Linked DNA regions of Homo sapiens: regions 1 and 2 are each linked to region 3. Evidence: fine-mapped expression QTL. Tissue or cell type: whole blood. Region 3 holds a variant in brackets; each other region holds the start of a gene. Each region is shown on its reference strand, or each on the opposite one. Region 1 holds the start of CREB3L3 (cAMP responsive element binding protein 3 like 3). Region 2 holds the start of ACADVL (acyl-CoA dehydrogenase very long chain). Region 3 overlaps PPARA (peroxisome proliferator activated receptor alpha).

Region 1 (2,840 bases), not on the chromosome of region 3:
AACTCTTGACCTCAGGTGATCCACCCACCTCGGCCTCCCAAAGTGCTGGCATTACAGATGTGAGCCACCACGCTTGGTCTAATATGTCATCTGCTAAAGGGGGACTTTGCCTGGGCACAGTGGCTCATGCCTGTAAATCCAGCACTTTGGGAGGCTGAAGCAGGTGGATCATTTGAGCCCAGGAGTTTGAGACCATACTGGCCAACACAGTAAGACCCCATCTCTATAAAAAAAAAAAAACAAAATTAGCCAGGTGTGGTGGTGCACGCCTGCAGTCCTAGCTACTTGGGAGGCTGAGACGGGAGGATCACTTGAACCCAGGAGTTGGAGGCTGCAGTGAGCTATGATCCTGCCACTGCACTCCAGCCTGGGCAATAGAGTGAGACCCTGTCCTCCACCAACACCAAAAAAAAAAACAAAAAAACAAAACAGGGCTCCTCTCTCTTGGTAGGGGGTGGAGGGGAGGTCAGAGACACCTCTCAGCCACCCGGGCTGATTCACAAATATCGAACATTCACTAAAATGTCAATACAGTGACCTAGAGCCAGAGGGGAAGAGGGAGGGTACAAGAGGAGAGTTCCAGGCAGAGGGGCGAGCAGGTGAGTAGGTGCAAAGGCCCTAAGCAGGAACCAGTTTGGCTCCATAAATATTTGTTGACTCAATGAACGATAGAAGATTCTAGAGAGAATTGATTGCACAGAATCACCCATGGGGACTCAGAGGCGGAGTCCAAGCTGGTTTCGGAGGGGGCTGGGGGCCGGAGGTTGGCAGGTGGGGTGAAGGATGGGAGCCGCTAGCTGCTGGCAGGAAAACTGGCTTCAGTGAAGATCTGGTCTGGTCCTCTTGGTTTGTTTCTGTCCAGGGAGTGGACAGGACCCATGTAAGGGCCCTGGGCTATCCCAGAACCCATCTGGGAATTCTGAAGAGAAAAAGTCCTGTAACTGGCCGGGTGCGGTGGCTCACGCCTGTAATCCCCGCACTTTGGGAGACTGAGGGGCCGATCACGAGGTCAGGAGTTCGAGACCAGCCTGGAAAACATGATGAAACCTCGTCTCTACTAAAAATACAAAAGTTAGCCGGGCATGGTGATGGGGACCTGTAGTCCCAGCTACTCGGGAGGCTGAGGCAGGAGAATCACTTGAACCCAAGAGGCAGAGGTTGCAGTGAGCCGAAATGAGATGGCACCACTGCACTCCAGCTTGGGCCACAGAGCGAGACTCCGTCTCAAAAAAGAAAGAAAAAAAGAAAAAGTCCTCATAAGTAGGGCAGAGGTCACGGCAGAGTGGAGGTACCCCAGACTTCGACCTTTGCTCACTGAGGGCTGGAAAACCACAAAACACCCAGATAACGGTCTTCCCTCCCCTGCTCCTGCCTGCCCCAGTGTCACTGGCCCTCAACCCTGTCTCTCCACCCTGTCCACCAATCAGCACCTGGAGGTGGGCTGGGAGCTGCCTGTGACCGCTTCAGCATCTTTTGGGAGTGGTGACAGAGCCACAGAGGGCTGTGAGCTTGCCCGGCCCCAGGTAACGCTGGCGGTGGGTGGGCCTCCAGCTTGGAGCAGAGACCCCCCGAGGCATCTGCAGACAGAACTGGATGGACCCATGAATACGGATTTAGCTGCTGGAAAGGTGAGCCCTACTAGGTCCCCAGGGAGAGCGGGAGTCTAGGCTGGGAAAGCCTACCCAAGCTGCCAGAGCTGGAAGGACCCCATCTCCACCCCTATTGTACAGATGGGAAGACTGAGGCCCAGAGAAAGGATGCAATGAGCAAAACTGTGTGCCTTTGCCCCGGGGCTGCCCTTGTCTTTCTTCCAGGTCCCCCTGCCTCCTAGGAGCGGGCACTTGGGGAGGCTGTGAAGGCCTGAGAGGCAAGCGGCATCTCTAGCTAGGGCCTCTCTCCAGCACTTTTTATTTTATTTTATTTTATTTTTATTTTTATTTTTTGAGATGGAGTCTCCCTCTGTCACCCAGGCTAGAGTGCAATGGCACGATCTCAGCTCACTGCAACTTCCACCTCCTGGGTTCAAGAGATCTTCCTGCCTCAGCCTCCCAAGTAGTTGGGATTACAGGTGTGCACCACCACGCCCGGCTAATTTTTGTACTTTTCCTAGAGACAGGGTTTCACCATGTTGGCTAGGCTGGTCTCAAACTCCTGACTTCAGGTGAGCTGCCCGCCTCGGCTTCCCAGAGTGCTGGGATTACAGATGTGAGCCACCGTGCCTGCCATACTTTTTTGTTTTTTGAAACAAGGTCTTGCTCTGTGACCCAGGGTGGAGTGCAGTGGGGTGGCCATAGCTCACTGCAGCCTCAACCTCCTGGGTTCAAGGGATCCTCCTACCTCAGCCTCCCCAGTAGCTGGGACGACAAGTGTGTGCCACCGCAGCCAGCTAATTTTTTTAAATTATTTGCAGTAGGGATAGGGGTCTCTATGTTGCGCAGGCTGGTCTTGAACTCCTGGGCTCAAGTGATCCTCCTGCCCCGGCCTCCCAAAGTGCTGAGATTACAGGCATGAGCCACCACATCCAGCCTCTCCAGCACTTTAAGAGAAATTGGCTCTCACACTGTGGAATTCTCTCTATCAGCCTCAAAGTCCAGATTTGGAAAGGGAGTCTCAGCGAGGGGCAGCAGCTGGCCCAACCCGGAGGCAGAGCGGCAACTGAACTCTAGCCGGAAAGAGCCAGGGTTATGTGCACATGGGAGGTGGGGAGGACAGGGGCTGTATGTGACCCTCACATCTGTTCCTCGCGCCCCAGATGGCTTCTGCTGCCTGCTCCATGGACCCCATCGACAGCTTTGAGCTCCTGGATCTCCTGTTTGACCGGCAGGACGGCATCCTGAGAC
Region 2 (2,500 bases), not on the chromosome of region 3:
GGCAGGACCCTGCATGGTGCTCCAGCTTGGACCAAATGATCTCTGGGCTCCCAAACAGCCCCCGAAGTTCAGTAATGGCCCTTGGAGGCCCAGGTCCCTCAGAAAACGGGCTACTCACCCAGCAAGGCCTGGAAGAGGTCGCTATGCAGCACTGTGAGGAGTGGGGGTGCCCACCGCAGCAGTGGGGGTGCCAGGAGCCAGAGGGCTGACCTGGGAGCTAGTGAGATGCAAGGAGAATTGGGACAGGGAAGATGCCAACACAGGAAGATGAACACACTGTCACTTCATCTCCCCAGACTGTGCCCTTCACCCCAGCCCCTACGGAAAGATTTGGGGAGAAGGATCTCCGAGCCCCAGCCCCCCACTTCGCTCCCAGACCTCCCCTCCACAAGGAGCCCTGTTTTTCACCTCTTGGTCTCTGGGACATCTCTCTCTTCTCTCACTTTAATCTCCCTAATCCTCCAGGATTGGAGTTGAGCTGCTTCTCCCCACTAAATTCCAGCTGTGAGTAAAGTAGGCCGTCTCTGAGCCGACCAGCTGTCCCATTCCCCCAGGTCCCAAGGCACCAGCACCGCCACCATCTTGCTCCACACACCCTGGCCCCCTCTTCCCATAGGCAGGCAGAACCTAGCCACGCTCTCCTGAGAAGCCAGCAAAGAGGGCCTCCTCACAGAGGGCTCCAGCAGCTCAAAAAGAAGCTGAGCCCAGCTCTCTCTCCTCCTGGGCCTCCTCTCACCCCAATGAGAATTGCAGAAAAAGGGGTAGAAATTGTTTGGGACTTCCTGCCCTAGGGCTAGAGAAGTTGGGGTTTTACGGGTAAGAGGCAGGAGAATTCCTGCAGTTCCTCTCAGGCCCGGGAGGAATCCATCTGCCTGGGCACATGGTCTCTGGAAGGAACAGAGGGCAAAGACAGAAGGGAATGTTCAGGAAGGTCTCAGAGGCTTTACTAAGGGAGGGGCAGTGAATCTGGGGGGGTCTTCCTACTGTGAAACTGTAGCTGTTCCAAGAGTTAGTGAATGGCCTACATCTCAGAAGAATACACTTAGGGTACTCACACCCTAGCTTGGGTGCCCCCCACCACTGTACCCTCCCTTTTGTGTTGGCCGAGATAGATTTCATCAGGAACCCTAGAGTCTGTCTTTCCATGTCTCTGCCTCTGCCATCTACCTTACACTTCTCTTTCCCTACTTTTCCCTTCTAACCCCACCGGAGAAGCCCTCCCTTCAGTCCACCTCCATCCCTCTGGCTGCAGTGACTTAAGCCCCTTCCTCTTCTGTCCCATCCTATCCCATCACCCCGTCGGAGGACTAGACTCTAGGTCGGACGGGCGGGATTAAGGAGTTTGGGGGAGACGAGGGACGCTTGGAGATCCCTCTAAGTCAGCGGAACGCAGGGCCGGGCTCCAGGGAACTACAGCTCCCAGCATGCCCCGGGGCCCGCAACCGTCCGCCGCCCGGTGCACTGTGGACGATGAGTCAGGGTTAGGGGCGCCAGGACGTGGGCGTGCAGGACGCCAGAGCTGGGTCAGAGCTCGAGCCAGCGGCGCCCGGAGAGATTCGGAGATGCAGGCGGCTCGGATGGCCGCGAGCTTGGGGCGGCAGCTGCTGAGGCTCGGGGGCGGAAGGTCTGTGTGTGACAAGAGGGACGGTGGGCAGCGGCCCTGGGCACCGGGCCGGCACTGAACCCCCACTCCCCACAGCTCGCGGCTCACGGCGCTCCTGGGGCAGCCCCGGCCCGGCCCTGCCCGGCGGCCCTATGCCGGGGGTGCCGCTCAGGTAAGTCACCGCAGCCTTGGCAAGGGGGTGTGGGAGCGGCGGTCCGCTTCGGCGCCCGCCATCGGCAGGGATCTCCCTCTTGGTGCCAGGTACCTGCCTACTGCTCAGTCGCCGAAAGTAGGGGAAAGGGCAAGCCAGGGTGCCCTAGGGCGAAACTAGGGGAAAGGTCACCGCTTCGCGCCGCCTCCCCGCGCGGCTCTCGCCTGTTCTCCCCTTGACACAGCGGAAGTCCCTTCCCTGAACTTGCTAACCGTCTCTTTTCCCAGCTGGCTCTGGACAAGTCAGATTCCCACCCCTCTGACGCTCTGACCAGGAAAAAACCGGCCAAGGCGGTAGGTAGCCCCGAGGCCAGGTGGACCTTAGCCAGACCCAACCAGAGCCCTGAAATTTGCCTCTCTCTGCCCAGGAATCTAAGTCCTTTGCTGTGGGAATGTTCAAAGGCCAGCTCACCACAGATCAGGTGTTCCCATACCCGTCCGGTAAGGGAAGGGATAATCAGAGCTGGGTGGGGCCAGGGTGGTTTCCCCTGCCAGCCTGGCCTGACCAGCCTGTCCCCCACCCTCTGCAGTGCTCAACGAAGAGCAGACACAGTTTCTTAAAGAGCTGGTGGAGCCTGTGTCCCGTTTCTTCGAGGTAAGGAATGACTCGGGGCTTGGTCCCTGGTGAGGTGTTTGGAGATGTTAAGCTCAAAAGGAGCCTGGATGTGGGATCCTGTGCCTTCCCCA
Region 3 (2,840 bases):
ACAATAAATGAGCAACAAAAAAGGTGAGTAAAGCAAGTGCGCTGGTTTCTCAGTGGCCCAGGTCTTTAAATCCACTGTGTATTACCCTCACAGGGCTTCTTTCGGCGAACGATTCGACTCAAGCTGGTGTATGACAAGTGCGACCGCAGCTGCAAGATCCAGAAAAAGAACAGAAACAAATGCCAGTATTGTCGATTTCACAAGTGCCTTTCTGTCGGGATGTCACACAACGGTAGGTAAGGTGGCCCTGCACATTTTCCCAGTTCGTTCCTCAGTTCCCCTTCCTTGCTCCAAGGGAACAGATCAAGCTATGGATGAATGTGCTTCAACATTTCACACCCAAGTCATTTTGTAATCAGAGTGGCCTAAGAAAATAAAAGTCGCCCAGGCGCGGTGGTTCACGCCTGTAATCCCAGCACTTTGGGAGGCTGAGGTGGGTGGATCACCTCAGGTCAGGAGTTTGAGACCAGCCTGGCCAATATGGTGAAACCCCGTCTCTACTAAGAATGCAAAAATTAGCTGGGTGTGGTGGCACATGCCTGTAGTCCCAGCTACTCGGGAGGCTGAGGCAGAAGAATCGCTTGAACCCGGGAGGCGGAGGTTGCAGTGAGCTGAGATTGCGCCACTGCACTCCAGCCTGGGCGACAGAGGGAGATTCCGTCTCACAAAAAAAAAAAAAAGAAAAAGAAAGAAAGAAAGAAAATAAAAGTCTCCCAGGTGCGGTGGTTCACACCTGTAATCCCAGCACTTTGGAGGCCGAGGCGGGTGGATCACTTGAGGTCAGGAGTTTGAGACCAGCCTGGCGAACATGGCAAAACCCCGTCTCTAATAAAAATACAAAAATTAGCTGGGCATGGTAGTGCACACCTGTAATCCCAGCTACTTGGGAGGATGAGACAGGAGAATAGCTTGAACCCGGGAGGCGGAGGTTGCAGTGAGCTGAGATCGCACCACTGCACTCCAGCCTGGGCGACAGAGTGCGACTCCGTCTCAAAAAAAAAGAAAAAAAAAGAAAAAGTCTCAAATAGCTGAGATTCAGTGGTGCATTGGACTCGCTGTTAGAAACTTCAGTGGTAAGACTTTGATACAGAATCGAAAAACCAAGTGGAAGGCACCAAAATGACAGAATGTTCACCTCGTCCATAGGAAGGGTGTACCACCTCAAACATCTCACCACGTTATGAATTTCCTTCTAGCCAATCATTTAATAGTTTCAGAACATGCTAATTGTGATGTGAATGTAAGTCGTTCATAAGAGTTGCATGTCTACCTTCTGGAAAAAGAAGCAGTTATTATATAAACTCATCCC[G/A]AAGCCCCGTTCACCTCCTTCACTCAAAGGTTGATGATGCACCTGATAGTGGTGTGCACCCTACTAATGAGACGAACGATGGTGTCACCTTCAGCCTGCACCTGTTAACGATGGTGTCACCTTCAGCCTGCACCTGTTTAAACATCTACAGTGTATGGAGTTTGAGTTTTTCATCTCTCCATAGTGGAAAGCCGAATAGTAATGAAGGATGGGTCTGAACTGCCTGTGAATTTTCATTCCTGGTTTAAAGTCCTGGGGGAGCCCCTCGTCCAGCCCTGTCCGCGCAGTCATGACCTCACTGCTCATGCCTGTGTTTCCCCCTCCAAACCCTAGCGATTCGTTTTGGACGAATGCCAAGATCTGAGAAAGCAAAACTGAAAGCAGAAATTCTTACCTGTGAACATGACATAGAAGATTCTGAAACTGCAGATCTCAAATCTCTGGCCAAGAGAATCTACGAGGCCTACTTGAAGAACTTCAACATGAACAAGGTCAAAGCCCGGGTCATCCTCTCAGGAAAGGCCAGTAACAATCCAGTAGGTGTTTGCGGCTGTTCTGGGTTCTCTTGGCAACATGGAACCAGTGTCGTAGAGGACGATTAAGGACACATGTGTTGAATGTTGAGAAAATTATATTTATCCCACAGTTAAGCAAAGGACAGCGAAGATGGAAACAGTTCATTCTGAGACTCTGAGCTGTAGCTTAACAACAACTCCTTTCTTCTTGCTTGGAGCCACCTCAAAGCTCTTAGCAACTAAGTTATTATACTGGCTATGTAATTAATACACTTAAAAAAAACCTTAATAGCTTACCAAGTACTAAGATGATTTCTTAGGAGCATTTTTTCTTAAATAGAGATAGGTTCTTGCTCTGTTGCCCAGGCTGGAATGCAGTGGTGCAATCATAGTTCACTGCAGCCTTGAACTCCTGGGCTCAAGCAATCCTCCTGCCTCAGCCTCCCAAGGAGCTGGGACTACAGGTGTGCACCACCACACCTGGCTATGTTTGATGTTGTTGTTGTTTTGTTTTGTTTTTGTTTTTTGGTAGAGATGAGATGTTTCCCAGGCTGGTCTCAAACTCCTGGCCTCAAGTGATCTTCCCACCTCGGCCTCCCAAAGCACTGGCATTACAGGTGTGAGTCATGGCACCCAGCATTAACTGGATTTAAAAAAAAAAAAACTGACCAGGCAAGATGGGTCATGCCTGTAATCCTGGCACTCTGGGGAGGCCAAGGTGGGCAGATTGCTTGAGTCCAGGAGTTTGATACCAGCCTGGCCAACATGGAGAAACCCCAACTCTACTAAAGATACAAAAATTAGCTGAGCAGGGTGGCACACACCTGTAATTCCAGCTACTTGGGTGGCTTAGGCATGAGAATTGCTTCAACCCGGGAGGCAGAGGTTACAGCAAGCTGAGATCATGCCACTGCACTCCAGCCTGGGTGACAGATCGAGACCCTATCTCAAAAAAAAAATAGAATAATAAAATAAATCCCTACTTTGAGGTGTATTAGTCTGCTATAAAGAAATCC

Evidence for each region.
Region 1: CREB3L3 starts here. The variant in region 3 is fine-mapped to the expression of CREB3L3 in whole blood (TOPMed, PIP 0.99).
Region 2: ACADVL starts here. The variant in region 3 is fine-mapped to the expression of ACADVL in whole blood (TOPMed, PIP 0.94).

The regions. Positions count from the first base shown.
Region 1 is chr19:4,152,147-4,154,986 of GRCh38, forward strand. It overlaps CREB3L3 (cAMP responsive element binding protein 3 like 3), which reads left to right and starts at 1,485. Exons shown (of 10, transcript NM_032607.3): 1 at 1,485-1,628; 2 at 2,753-2,840. The coding sequence starts at 1,602.
Region 2 is chr17:7,218,423-7,220,922 of GRCh38, forward strand. It overlaps ACADVL (acyl-CoA dehydrogenase very long chain), which reads left to right and starts at 1,516. Exons shown (of 20, transcript NM_000018.4): 1 at 1,516-1,624; 2 at 1,700-1,775; 3 at 2,042-2,107; 4 at 2,182-2,254; 5 at 2,344-2,408. The coding sequence starts at 1,563. It also overlaps a transcript of DLG4 not described here. RefSeq lists a silencer at 1,640-1,849 and an enhancer at 1,808-2,415.
Region 3 is chr22:46,218,170-46,221,009 of GRCh38, forward strand. PPARA (peroxisome proliferator activated receptor alpha) reads left to right here. Exons shown (of 9, transcript NM_005036.6): 6 at 94-232; 7 at 1,643-1,845. Among named protein-coding and RNA genes, the nearest start is that of CDPF1, 31 kb to the right of the region's middle. The variant G/A (reference allele first, on the strand shown) is at 1,310.